Linked DNA regions of Homo sapiens. The protein of the gene in region 2 purifies or fractionates together with the protein of the main gene of each other region. This does not show direct contact. Each region holds a gene or a part of one and is shown on either strand. Other genes may lie near its edges.

Region 1 (3,500 bases), on a different chromosome or scaffold from region 2:
CCAGGACTTGGCTCCCTACAATCTGCCCACTCCCAGCCCCCACGCCACCAGGCTGGCCCTCAAAGAACATCTGAGTTCACGGAAGCAGGATGGAAAACTCAGGATTTATTCAGAGGTTTCTACCCACTAGGTTCTATGTGCCCAACACAGAGCTCAGAACAAAAATAACACCAGCTATGGTGATGAGACTGGCTATGGGACTCATCTGGGGATCATGAGCAAACAGACCCAGTTCCTGCCCCCACGGAGCTCACAGTCCCGAGGGGACAGGCACTCCCTTGGGCTCACTCATCAGGCTGCATCTGGGCTGTGTCCACTGTCTGTCTGTCCCCCTGGAGGGCAGAGCAGATGCTGTCTGGACAGCATCCAGGACAGCGTCTGTGCCTCCTGGACAGAGATCCTCAGCTCAGCACTGCTGACATTTGGGCCCCACAAGCAGCCTCTGCCTTAGGGGCTGCCCTGAGCACGGGAGGAGGCTCAGCAGCATCCCTGGCCTCTGCCCACCACATGCCCACAGCATACACCCCACGCTGCGACCAGCAAAAGAATCTGCAAACGTTGCCAAATGTCCCCTGGTGCGACATCCACCCTCCTCTGGAATAGCTGATTTTAGTAATTCCTAGTAGGTAACAGTATCCAGAAAATGTCAGTTGGATGCATTCTTATTTAATCTAGTGCATGCGTGCACACACGCACACACACACACACACACTCTCAAATGCACTCACACATTCCCTCACACTGACACACTTGCAAACTTTCATTCTCACACTCAGACATTCTCACATTCACACACTTATACTCACACATACATACATTCTCACAAACACACTCATTCTCACATACTCACACTTTCTTACACACTGATACATTCTCACTTTCATGGACTCTCACATCCACAGTCATTTATACTCACACGCACTCACACGCACACGTGCACTCCCCACCACCTTCATTCACGGAGGAGGGGGCTGGGCCCAAGCGGCTGCCAGCTGTCCTGAGCTCACCCTGCTGGCTGCAGCACAGGGGCTGGAGTGGAGTCAGATCCAATGTTCACACTCTTCCTTCACTCCACTCTCCCCAAAACACTTTTTCTGGGATTCAAAGTCACCACCTGAGAATCATGGAAGGACCCAGTTCTGGCAGAAGCTGCTGTCTTCTGGTGTCTGTGATCTCCTTCTGCCAGCAGGAAATGGCAGGTGATACGTGACCTGGTTTGGCGGCTCGAGCTGGTGCTTCCACTCCTGCTCCCTCCTCCCGGGCACCTGAGGCCCTCACGGCTTAGCAAGTGTGGCAGGTGGAGCCTGTCCCTGGGCTTGAGGTCCTTGCTGGACTCCAGCTCCTGCCCTCCCTCTGCCTCATGCAAAGTCCTAATCACAGAATGTTGGGACCCACTAGAAAGCATCAAAGAGGTCCTCCAGCAGGTGGGGTGGCAAGGCAGGGCCACACACAGCATGGCGGGGGAACCAGGGCTGACTCCTAGCCCACCAGCCCCACCTTTGGAGTGGCTTGGGACTGACAAACCGTGTCTCCATCTCCAAGGCCATCTTTGCTCCCCAAGAAGCACAGAAGAAACCCCTCCAGCAGGTCTCCTTCAGCTAAAACCCAGCTTAGCACCAAAAACAGGGCTCCAGGTCACAGCACCAGCTGCCAGCCTGTATCTTCACTTCTTTTCCCATCCACCTGCCTGGGAGGAATTCCGAGAAGACCAATGCCAGAGAAGCGAAAGGTAGCCAGGAGCTGGGGGAAGGCTTGCAGGCCATGGTGTCACCATTTATTAGCTCTGTGATCCTGCATAATTTATCGAATCTCTTTTTAAAAATGTATTATTCATCTTGTTTTTTAGAGAGACAGGGTCTTGCTATGTTGCCCAGACTGGTCTCAAACTCCTGGGTTCAAGTGATCCTCCTACTCCGGCCTCCTGAGTAGCTGAGATTACAGGCATATGCCACCATGCCTGGCTATCTAACCTCTTTGCCTCAGTTTGCTTGTCTGTCAATGGGCATGCTAACTCCTGCTCCCAATGATCAGCAGTGGGGCTTAAATTCAAGAATGGCATGGAGAATTAAGCAAACAGTTGCTTAATTCATCAACATACTTTCCTTTCAGGGTTGCCTTGGAGATGCCAGGACATCTGTGAGGATGTGGCCTGGGTTTCAGTCCTAGAGTCCCAGCGAGGAGAGGGACACATGGAAAATGCTCAGCAAATGCCACCAAGGTTTCTGATTATCAGGCCCAGTGCGTCACCACTGGGGCCCTTCTCTCCACCAGCACTGTCTGTCAATGAGTAATGAGGGCCCAAGAGGGGCTACACAAATACCCTTCCAGTCCAGCAGACCCAGGAGAGTCAGAGGAGAGCTGGATCACAGGTGCCAGGCAAAGCCAAGGCCAGGATCTGCCCGAGGAAGAAAAGAACGTGACCCGTGACCCTGGGACCTGGGAGGGCAGTGGGCAGAGGCATCTTCAGTAATCCGACACCACTTGAGAACTGTTCAACAGCCCCTGGGGGACTGAGGGGGACACACAGAGCCTGTGATTCCCAAAAACCTCAGTGGGGCAGCAGGAACGCTGGCCTAGGAATCAGGGCATGGGGACCCTGCCACTTTCCTATTCCATGACTCTGAGCAAGTCACTTCCTCTCTGGGCCTTGGTTTCTCCATCTGTAAAGTAGGCACAGTGTACGTCTATGGAGATCACGCTGTCCACAACAAACTTACAGGCAAATGGAAACCCAGGCAGGAAGGTGCTTCACCAAGACAAAAGGGCCACAGGGTCTTACCAAGGCCCTGCCAGGCTCAGCTCTGGCCAGATTAGCCCCGCACCTTGGACCAAGGCCCCCACTTCTGCCAGCCTCAGACTCCTGTCTGTTAAGACTAGTGCCTTGCTCCAGCTCTGCCACCCACCTGCACACCCTCTTGAGCAAACTCTCCTGGGCCCCGCCACAACTCCCACAGGGTGAGGCTGAAGGGGTATCCAGCAGAGAAACATCCATGATCTGTTCTAGAAGTTCCAGGTTCCGCCCACCAGGAAGAGCAGCCACAGGAAGGCAACAATGTAACCCTACACAGACACACCACAAAAACAGCACCAGGAACAGTATCTGTGGCACTAACTGGACTCTAAACCCGGTACTTCCTTTAAGCCTCACAGAAACCCTAGGAGGGAGGTGCCAGCATGTCACCATTTAACAGACGGGGAAACTGAGGCATCAAGAGGTTAAGATGTGTGCCCCAAGTCAGCAAGCATCAAGCTGGCTGCTTTAAGGTTAAAGCAACCTTAAAGGGAATGTTGACAATGATCTCACATTGCCCTAAATATATCCACAGTCCTCACCACCACCCGTGGCCCAGATACAACGTTGTAAGGTGGGCTGCACGTGACCATGAGGCTTTCAGCGTGTGGAGGTCAGCTGGGACAGTCACATGCCTCTCCTCCACCCTGCAGTCACCACTGAGCCATCATGAGCAGGCTTGAGCTTTTGGCAAAACCAGCATCTTGAA
Region 2 (3,093 bases):
AAAACAGCCAAAGGCAGTAACTAAATAAATGGGTGTGGCTATGTTCCAATACAGTTATTTACAAAAACAGATGGTGGGCTGGATTTGGCTCATGGCGTGGGGTTTGCCAACTCCTGCTCTATACTATCCCTAGAAGAGTATCCTTTACTGTGTGCTTCCAAAGATGTATACCTTCCAAGGTATACATCAGTCATACCTTGAGGCCCTTCTGTCCACAAACCTGTATCATCAACTGCCTACTTAATACCTACATTTAGATATGTCAAAGGCGTCTCAAGCCTTAACACGGGAATCGTGCTCTTTCCTCTCAAATCTGATGTCCCTCCAGTGTTCTTCCTTAGTAAAAGGCACTGTCATCTATACAGTTGCACAAAGCAGAAAAGGAGTCAACTCTGACACTTGCCCTTCTCTCATCTTCTAATTCTTTGAACTGGAGGAATACTTAAAACAGGTAGGCCTGAAAATGGCATTACTTGAAGCACACAAATTTAACACTTCACTAATAGAGCTAAACTTTATTTCCATGTTTATTACATGTTTATAACTTGATGTTGAGTACATATTAGAATAGACTTAACATACAACTTGGGAGAAAAGCTGACATTCTCCACTGAATGGGTTAAAAAGGAATGTAAAACTACAAAATACTTAAGTGTGAGTTCTAAATTATGGCAAACAGAACAATAAATACCTTGCCATTTTTCTTTCTAATTTTCCAAGATAGATTTCATTATAAAAATTGTTTGATAACAATTTAAGAAGGGAAAACAAGGGATACTCATAAAAAACATTTTACTTTAATTATAGGGTACAAATAAGAGTCTTAACACAGAAATCCTACCTCCTATTTAAGATATAAATACTTGATGATATAATCAATCAAGAGGGATTAATTAATGTCAGTTGAAAATCTAATGACTTAAATCCATAAATGCCATTTGCTTTTGTCTGGAAGATTTAGACTGATTTAAGGGTGACACACAGCAGAGTTCTAGTGGACATTCGTGTTAACCGTTTGGTGCTCAGAATGGAGATGGCCAAATACCAAGTGCTTAGTGACAGAAAGTCAGAATTAATCAGTTCCAAGTGACTAAGAGCCAATAGAATTAATCTCCATCTCCTGATTTATGGTTGTGAACAAAGAGATAGCTTTTTTCACTGCAAATTTCTAAATTAAACTCTATTCTGAAGCTGCTGAAATTCACAGAACACAGAGAATACTGTCTGTACTATAATTTCAATGTTTAAACACAAAATTATGGGTGATTATCAAAACTATTATTGGTAATAGTTTCTTTTGATTCTTTACACGCCCCTTAGCACATTTTGTGAAGAAATGTGTGTTTTTCTTAATACTACTCATCTTTACTCAAATACATTAAAAAATCATTTTAAAATTATTTTATATCATGGATTACAGAAGACTTACTAAAAGTGAATAATGCTTATTGTTCTCACTACATGTTTAAAGAACCATCTGAAAAACATATTCTTTCTAATACCACTTACAAAAAACATTTAATGAAGATAACACTTCTAATTAGGTTATTCTAGTGATCATTTTCTCATGTAACTATTTAAAACAGATGATTTATGGCTTTTCAATTTTTAAAATTTCACATTTAATGTCATGTTAAAAACTTTTCTAAATCAGTCTTCCAGTATCGGATTCTTAAGTGAGAAAAAAGAAGACAAAAGAGGAAAATTCCGTATCAATTATTTAGCCTCCTCCCTTCCCTAGAAACCAACATTTCCTTTTAAATGCAAGGCACACTCCTTTTCTTAGAACAGAGATCAGGAAACTTTTTGTGTAATTTTGTGTAAAGGGCAGGTTAATAAACATTTTGGGCTTTGCGATTCTCATTTGGCTTCTATTGCAGCTGTTTACCTTAGGCTGGAGTAGTGGGAAAGCAGCCATAGACAATCTGCATTTATAAAAAGAAGTCCAAATTTGGCCTTTGGGCTATAGTTGGCCAACCGCTGCCTCAGAAGAACAGATCTACATACATAAAAGAATCATTCGAAAGAAACTGGTCTCTAGTCAGATGTGATGTATGATTCAGAATCTAGTAGCTAATCACTCTAGAACATTTTGATGTCAAGCACTTTGAATTTAGCCAACTTAAGATTCTTCTATTGAAACACATGTCATGCTTTTCATTGGAGATAATTTATCTTCATTTAAGAATGTGCTTCAGTATTACTTATTGAGGGCATTCAGTTTAAAATTAATAAATGATGTCCATACAATTTAATATCCAATTTAATTTTTTAAAAACTTAATAAAAAATATAACAGAATTGAAACATTTAAGTACACTCACTACCCACTCCAGTAATTCATTTAAGTCATACCAACTATAGAATATGAAAAATAAATTCAGAAGTGTAATTACTTTAAAATACACTACTTCCACTTTTGTAAGTATTTTACATTTATGTATATATTCTATAGTGGAAGCAGAAATTCTCTCTAAAAACATTATCTCCTTAAAATCTTGAGGTGCATATTAGAGCCACAGGCAATCTCTGACATATAAAATTGCAGTACAGGCCTTTCAAATTTGGCATTTCACTGGTACAATACAACAACCAAGATATATAATAACTGTACAGTGCCTAGACATTCCAGTAAGAACCATTATTTTCTTTAATGTAGAATGATTAATACATATTCTACAAGGGGCAGTAAGGTTAGTAATTCTATAGGGTATGTCCCGACATAATTTTCAAATTGTACAATAACACAAACAACTTTGTTAAGGCCATGTTTTATTTGCTGATTAATGGACAAAAGGCAATGTAATTTATTTTCAAGTATTTTCTTGAAAGTCTGTGCTCATAAAAATCATGAAAAGTTGGAAAGACTGTTAAATCACTGAAACTTCAAATATATCTTACACAATCTTGTTTGTACAAAAATACAAGTTAAATATAAACATAAAGCAATCATGGTAATTTTATGCAAATCTGTTTTATGTGATCATCAGTTATATATAAAAGTTTCTCAGTTCTGTTATTTGTGAAAAGATCAATACCAGATTGAATGACTACCTATTGGCAAAGGGCCCTAAAAAGCTTACTTTAGCACTCA
Region 3 (3,500 bases), on a different chromosome or scaffold from region 2:
CAGACAGCGGTTTCGTCCCACTGCCAGTGAGCTGTCCCCTGGGCAGCACAGGGCATCTGGGGGACATCCTTGCACTCCCCCTCTCCTGAGTCTGTCTCTGGGGGCTGCCCCCACTCCCACTCAGGATGGACAAGTGATCCAGGCCTGGCCAGAGCACACCACCTCCAAGGCCGCAGCCATTAGTCCAGGGAGACCCATATGGGGCCACACTGTTGGGCTGCAGCAGTGGGGGCAGGGACTTCTCTGCCTGGTGAGTGCTCCCACCTCCCTGTTTGGTTGATGCTACCTTGAGTCGTGCTTTCTGTCACCTGCAACCAAAACAACTCCAAGTGAACCAGCTCATAACTGCAGGATCTATATGATGCCCCTCTCAGCACTGAGGTTTTTAGTTACCTCTGCCTATAAATAGAATGCAACAGGCAATTGTTTCACCACTCGCAGAACACAGCTGCTCTCGCATTCAGACATGACCCACTGAGAATGTGGCCGCATTGCAGCCTCATGGGGCCAGGCACCAGTGCTATCCTCCACCCACCGGCCACGTTCTCCTTCCCGTCCATCCTCCAGGGCGCCAATAGCTGAAAGGATCTACAAACACGTGGGTCAGGATGCAGGGAGCTTTTACTGCCTTCCCCTGCAGAGCTCTGGGCAGTGGAGGTACATCTACAGCCCATCTCCTGAAGCTGACTAGGAGAGGCACCAGCCAGGAAGAGCACGCGCCATGGCCACATCCTCAGGCCCCACCTCCCAAGCCGCATCCCTTCCGTCTGGGCCGTCCCGGCAGAAACCACCGCCCTCGGCCTCGGCCGTCCCGGCAGAAACCATCGCCCTCGGCCTGGGCCTTCCCACCAGAAACCATCGCCCTCGGCCTGGGCCGTCCCGGCAGAAACCATCGCCCTCGGCCTGGGCCTTCCCGGCAGAAACGCTTCCACTCTGGAACCGTCAGTTGACAGCTCTCGCCACAGAACTCAGGGGAATGGCCTCGGCCAGGTGATGCACTGGCCATATGCTTCCATGCTGAGCCACAGGTTTCTCCAGAGGGGTCGGGACGCTGAGTGTTGTAATAAGCTCTCTAAAACACTATTTATTTGAAATAGGATCCCGGCAGCTTTATGTCAGTTGGTTTTACAAAACAGCACTGAAGTCTCCTAAGACTATTTTCAGACTGAGTCTGCACTGTGCGTCCGCCTGATGCCCAAACTGCAAGGATGACCGTCACTGTCCCAACCTAGGAACCATCTGCTGCCCAGCAAAGTCACTGTTCAACAGCCCGAGACACAGCCCACCAGGGTCCCTAGAACACCCTGCTCAAGCCGGGTGCAGTGGGTCACGCCTGTCATCCCAGCACTTTGGGAGGCCGAGATGGGCGGATCACGAGGTCAGGAGATCGAAACCATCCTGGCTAACACCATGAAACCCTGTCTCTACTAAAAATACAAAAAATTAGCCGGGCGTGGTGGTGGGCGCCTGTAGTCCCAGCACTTTGGGAGGCTGAGGCAGGCGGATCACGAGGTCAGGAGATTGAGACCATCCTGGCTGACATGGTGAAATCCTGTCTCTACTAAAAATAGAAAAAATTAGCCGGGCGTGGTGGCGGGCGCCTGTAGTCCCAGCTACTGGGGAGGCTGAGGCAGGAGAATGGTGTGAACCCGGGAGGCGGAGCTTGCAGTGAGCCCAGATGGCGCCACTGCACTCCAGCCTGGGAGACAGAACGAGACGTTGTCTCAAAAAAAAAACCAAACAAACAAAAAAAACCCAGGGCAACATGCCATGAACCACCCGGGTCCCCAGAGCACCCAGATGTACAGCTGGCTGCTGTAGCCATGCCCACAAACCGCCCGGGTCCCTGGAATACCCAGGGCAACATGCCGTGAACCGCCCGGGTCCCCAGAGCACCCAGATGTACAGCTGGCTGCTGTAGCCATGCCCACGAACCACCCGGGTCCCTGGAATACCCGGGGCAACATGCCGAGAACCGCCCGGGGTTCCTGACACCAGCCTCCCACCGTGACACCAGACGCAAAGGCTCCATGTGCACGCAGTGCCAGCCTGGTCCCCCAGGACCTTCAAGACAAGCTCGGCAGCAACTGCTTCCTTTCAGACCAACATGGGAGGACTTTCTGCCCATGTTCTGTGGCAACGATTACAGCGCTTCCTTCTAAATAACAGATGAAAAAATCCCACAGAGACTATTTAAAAATATTCCCCTCCTCAGTTTAAAGACGTTATAATCAGATCAGAGCACAAGTAAATGAAGTGCTATTATCTAGTTTAAGGATCTCCAAATATTAGGAGTCACTCTGAACAACACCACTGACACACACATACAAAACTATCCACACTTGATCCACACTGGCTGATGCTCTGACAATGCAGTGCCTCCCAGATCGTGAGGATTTCAAATTTCCACCAGCATATCCTACACCATGCCCTCCACTCAAGAACTACCCCTAAAGGAGGAAAGGAATTCTGAGAACCCAACAGCTGGAGCTAAGCAGGGAAAAGGGTTAGGGTTAGAACAAACAAAAATTCGCCACCAACAAACCCAGGCCAAGTGGTGTTGTCCAGCTTGTGCACTGCCGGAAGCCAAGGAGCTCTATTAGTTAGAGATACAGCCAGGACCAGTGCAGGCCTCTTACATAAGGGACGCATATCAGGCAGAGGGGAGTTTTAAGTGTGGTCAGGTGGCTGAGTGAGTTTCTCTCAGCTACTATTCCCTGTTCCACAAAAGTTTAAAGGATAGTTTACCTGAGAGAAGAAAAGTTATAGGAAGAAAAAATAGCCAGCAAATACCAAAACAAGCTTTGTGCCAAGTGTGCACAGCCCCCTTCCCCGACTGAGTGTCAGGAGGCGGAGAGGAGGAAGGAGGAGGTGCTGATGATACAGGCACTCACAGGTCTGACTGGGTCACTTTCTCATTCCACTCTCCAAGTTTCTCAGAAGTTTTCACATAGCTAAAAACAGAAAGTCTACAGTGAATTATTTAGAAGAACAATTTTAACTCAGGCATCAAACTGCAGGTGAAGTTCCAGGGAAGACAGAGAGGGACCAGCTGGCAGGAACATCAACTCCACAGACGGCCCAAAAATGGGGTCCACTGCCTCAACCAGGCCCTGTGCAGGCCCCAGGCCGCCAGGTGAGCTGTGGGTATAGCGGAACTGATGTTCCCTTTTCTGTCACCTGGCAGTAGCCCCTGGTCTCTCGCTAGGAGATTCTTGGGCAACAGCACTGCTGTGGGGGACTGGAAGGGCACAGCCCACAGCTCCAAAACACCCTTGGGATTCAAAACTTACGATGTCCTAGGACAAAAACATGGGCCTCTCATATGTGAGATTTATGAAATGTGACCTGTTCTGTCTTTGTATAGGAACATGTCTTCTGGGAAACATTCCACAGCCACCCCAACCTTGAAGGGTATGTTTCAGAGAAGCCACGTGGACAGGGCCAAGTGAGAAAGCAGCACTCCCCAAATTCAGAGCTGAGCGACATCTGGGACAGGT
Region 4 (3,500 bases), on a different chromosome or scaffold from region 2:
ATGCTGCTTGGGGGTAAGGTGAAAGTGAGTCTTCGGGTTTGATTTCAGGGTGCTTACCTTTTGCACTGACTCAGATTCACAAGGTCAGGAAATAACTGCCCTGCAGGAGCTGCCTTCGGAGCTGCCATCACCAGGCTGAATTCTTTGTCAAGCAAGGGGACCATGAGGAGCTCAGTCGGAGCAAACCCAGGATGTGTTGACTTGCAGGGCGGACCTAAGTGGGGCCTCAGACCTTTCTTGCAAAATCTTTTACTAAGAAATAAATGCAACATAGTTTTTCTTTAATTCAGCAGTTATAGCTCTGTTCACATTATGTGTTTTTCTTCCTCAAAAAAATGCTACAATTTTTTTTCCAATAAAGGCCTCAACAAAAATTACATTGAATATAAATTTTCAAATAGCTTTTTATACTAGGAAGCCAAGGTAGGAAAGATAGTCTCATTGTATGATAAAAATAAAAACTTCCAAATATTCTTGTATTTATTGCCTGACTTTAGACCCTAGAAAGGAAAAAAAAAAACAAAAACAGAGCTTTGATCCTACATAGACTACTTAAACACTTAAGAAAAATAAGCCTTCCTCCTGCTTGTGAGCACACACACAGGATGGCCACACGTTGCTTGTTGTCAGTAGCTTGAGGGAGTCTCTTCATTGGCCTGTGGAACCCACTCCTAGTGGCAGCTGGAAAAGTGCATGGATTCCTTCTCTTTGTTGAGACTTCCCTCCCAGTTGGAACTGCAGTGTCTTTTTCTCCCTATTACTGTTAGGTGGAATGATTCTTTCTCTTAGCAAAGTGGTCTTGCCCCTGGCACCCCTCTTTAAGACCTAAGAATGTTTTTCCCTAGGTATGAGAAAAGGTTTTCTGTAAAATCTTCAGAAGAAGACACAAAGATGGGATTTGAGCCTTAGTTGGAATCCCCTGAGAGCCAATGGGGAGGCTAATGTAGACAGATGAGCAGCTTTTAGATCCATGCATCCTGGGACTTGCTCCAGAGGCTGTGTCTGAGCATGTCTTTCTCCCATTGGGAACCTGGGAGAGATTGCCCATTAACTGCCACATAGCCAGGATGCTTCCTAAGAGAGAGAACTGTTAGTTACTCACATATTTTTCTGCTTGTGTGGCCAGTGGTGTTTGCTCCAAATATACCATTGTACCTGTTAGTTACTGGAATGGAAATCATCTGCTTTCAGTAATGTCAGTCCTATTGTTCCTATGATTTATCAAGCAACATGACTTGGGGGGCTTTTTTCTTTCTTAACTTTTATTTTGCGTTCAGGGGTACACGTGCAGGATGTGCAGGTTTGTTACACAGGCGAAGGTGTGTCGTGGGGGTTTAGGGCTTTACGTTTTTATTCAAGAAAACATGAAAGGATGCTCCTGGCTCTGTTTCAGGAGGTGATGCAGGATTACCGAGATGAGCTCAAGGACTTCTTTGCAGTTGACAAACAGCTGGCATCAGAGCTTGAGTATGACATGAAGAAGTACCAGGAACAGCTGGTCCAGGAGCAGGAGCTAGCAAAACATGCAGATGTGGCCGGGACGGCTGGAGGTGCTGAGGTGGCACCTGTGGCACAGGTAGGTGTGGGGCCCACTGCACTGTGACCAGACAGTCCAGTCTGCTGTCTGCTACCAGTCTGTCGTTTGTCTGGCACCTCTCAAGATCTCCGTCATCAGAGGTTAGTCAGCCCGAAGGCCTCGAGAGTGCTGCTTGTTGGCCACTCCCTCGTGCCTTTCTGTCTGTGATGGATTTACTGTGCTCCAGACCTCCCTTCCATGAGGACGTGGTGCAGGAAGCGAGCTGGCAGCAGCAGTAGCTGGTGACTATAGATCCTAGGTCTGCCAGGGTGTGTCAGTGTGTCCGCATCTTCCCCCAGCACTCCCTCTTTAGAGCAGACCGGCACACGGCCATTTCTAGGAGTAGCTGTTGCTCACCGTCCTGAGGAATGCAGGCAGATCTCTTGTAGGAAAGACCAATGAGCACAAAGTAGCATACTCCTTTTTCTCTTCTGTCATGCCACAGCATCTACAAGTGGCAGCTTTCTCATAGTATTCTGTTTCTGAAAAGGAAATTCAACTTACCCAGGGTTGATATGGCTTCAAAGTACATTACTTATGGACTTGCTCATAGTACGTGAAGATTCTATTCCAATAAAGTGTTAAAATGGAGAAAGGGAATGGCTTGTACACTGTTGGTAGGGATGGAAAGTAGAACAGCCACTATGGAGAACAGTATAGAGGTTCCAAAAAACTAAAAGTAGAGGTACCATATGAGGCAGCAGCCTCGCTGCTGACTGTATAGTCAAAAGAAAGGAAATCAGGATGTCGAAGACATACCTGCACTCCCATGTTTATTGCAGCACTGTTCACAATAGCAAAATTTGGAAACAAATGTCCATCAGTGGATGAATGGTAAAGAAAATGGGGTGCATATACAGTGGAGTACTTTTCATCTATAAAAAGTGAAATCTTGTCATCTGTTGCAACATGGATGAACTTGGAAGACATTATATTAAGTGAAATAAGCCAAACACAGAAAGACAAAGATTGTATGTTCTCATTCATATATGTGAGCCAAAAAGGTTGATCTCACGGAGTTAGAGAGTGGATTTTTGGTGATTACCAGAGGCTGGGAAGGGGTGGGAGAAGGGGGATGAAGAGAAGTTGGTTAATGGGTACCAAAATACAGTTAGATAGAAGAAATAAGTTCTAGTATTCAGTACAGTGGAGATATTACAGTTTAACAATTTACTGTATATTTCAAAGTACATAGAAGAATTGGAATGTTCCCAACACAAAGAAAAGATACTCACGTTTGAGGTGATGGAGATGCCAATTACCCTGATTTGATCATTACGTTGTCCACATGTATCAAAATCTCATATGGACCCCCAACCATGTACAACTATCATATATCCGTTTTTGAAAACTTAAAAAGTATTAGAATGTACATACTCTTTATCTTCTCTACCAGGTTGCCCTGTGTTTAGAAACAGTGCCAGTTCCTGCTGGCCAAGAAAACCCTGCCATGTCACCTGCCGTGAGCCAGCCCTGCACACCCAGGGCAAGTGCTGGCCATGTAGCAGTATCATCTCCTACACCTGAAACAGGGCCATTGCAGAGGTTGCTGCCCAAAGCCAGGTAAAGAGCCCCTGGAGGCCACATCAGGGCTGGTTCTCTGTGGCGATGTTCTCAGAGGCGTCCCTGCCATTCCCAAGCGTGGGCAGGAAAGTCATTGTCATTGTCTGGCCTGCCACCCCGCTCCACACTGTGCCCTGGGAGGTTTGAATGAGGGTGGTGAGGGATGCGCCGGTGAGGAGGCACGCGGGGACACAGTGCAGCACTGTCACCTCTGCAGTGGTCTGCAGTGAGAAAGTCAGCGGCTGTGGCTGTTCTCCACAGGCCCATGTCCCTGAGCACCATTGCAATCCTGAATTCTGTCAAGAAAGCCGTGGAGTCAAAGAGCAGGCATCGGAGTCGGAGCTTAGGAGTGCTGCCTTTC

Evidence for each region. The genes of interacting proteins can lie anywhere in the genome.
Region 1: the proteins of NAMPT (region 2) and NDRG1 fractionate together in Homo sapiens (co-fractionation; one large-scale study listed by BioGRID). This does not show direct contact.
Region 3: the proteins of NAMPT (region 2) and TPD52L2 fractionate together in Homo sapiens (co-fractionation; one large-scale study listed by BioGRID). This does not show direct contact.
Region 4: the proteins of NAMPT (region 2) and NCAPD3 purify together in Homo sapiens (co-immunoprecipitation; one large-scale study listed by IntAct). This does not show direct contact.

What each region holds. Positions count from the first base shown.
Region 1 is NC_000008.11:133,287,253-133,290,752, forward strand, and holds part of NDRG1 (protein NDRG1), read right to left. Parts: intron 1-3,500. UniProt on the Homo sapiens protein: Stress-responsive protein involved in hormone responses, cell growth, and differentiation. Acts as a tumor suppressor in many cell types. Necessary but not sufficient for p53/TP53-mediated caspase activation and apoptosis.
Region 2 is NC_000007.14:106,247,798-106,250,890, forward strand, and holds the end of NAMPT (nicotinamide phosphoribosyltransferase precursor), read right to left. Parts: 3' UTR 501-3,093; downstream 1-500.
Region 3 is NC_000020.11:63,875,270-63,878,769, reverse strand, and holds part of TPD52L2 (tumor protein D54), read right to left. Parts: intron 2,955-3,500; coding exon 2,895-2,954; intron 1-2,894.
Region 4 is NC_000011.10:134,157,968-134,161,467, reverse strand, and holds part of NCAPD3 (condensin-2 complex subunit D3), read left to right. Parts: intron 1-1,393; coding exon 1,394-1,576; intron 1,577-2,972; coding exon 2,973-3,139; intron 3,140-3,400; coding exon 3,401-3,500.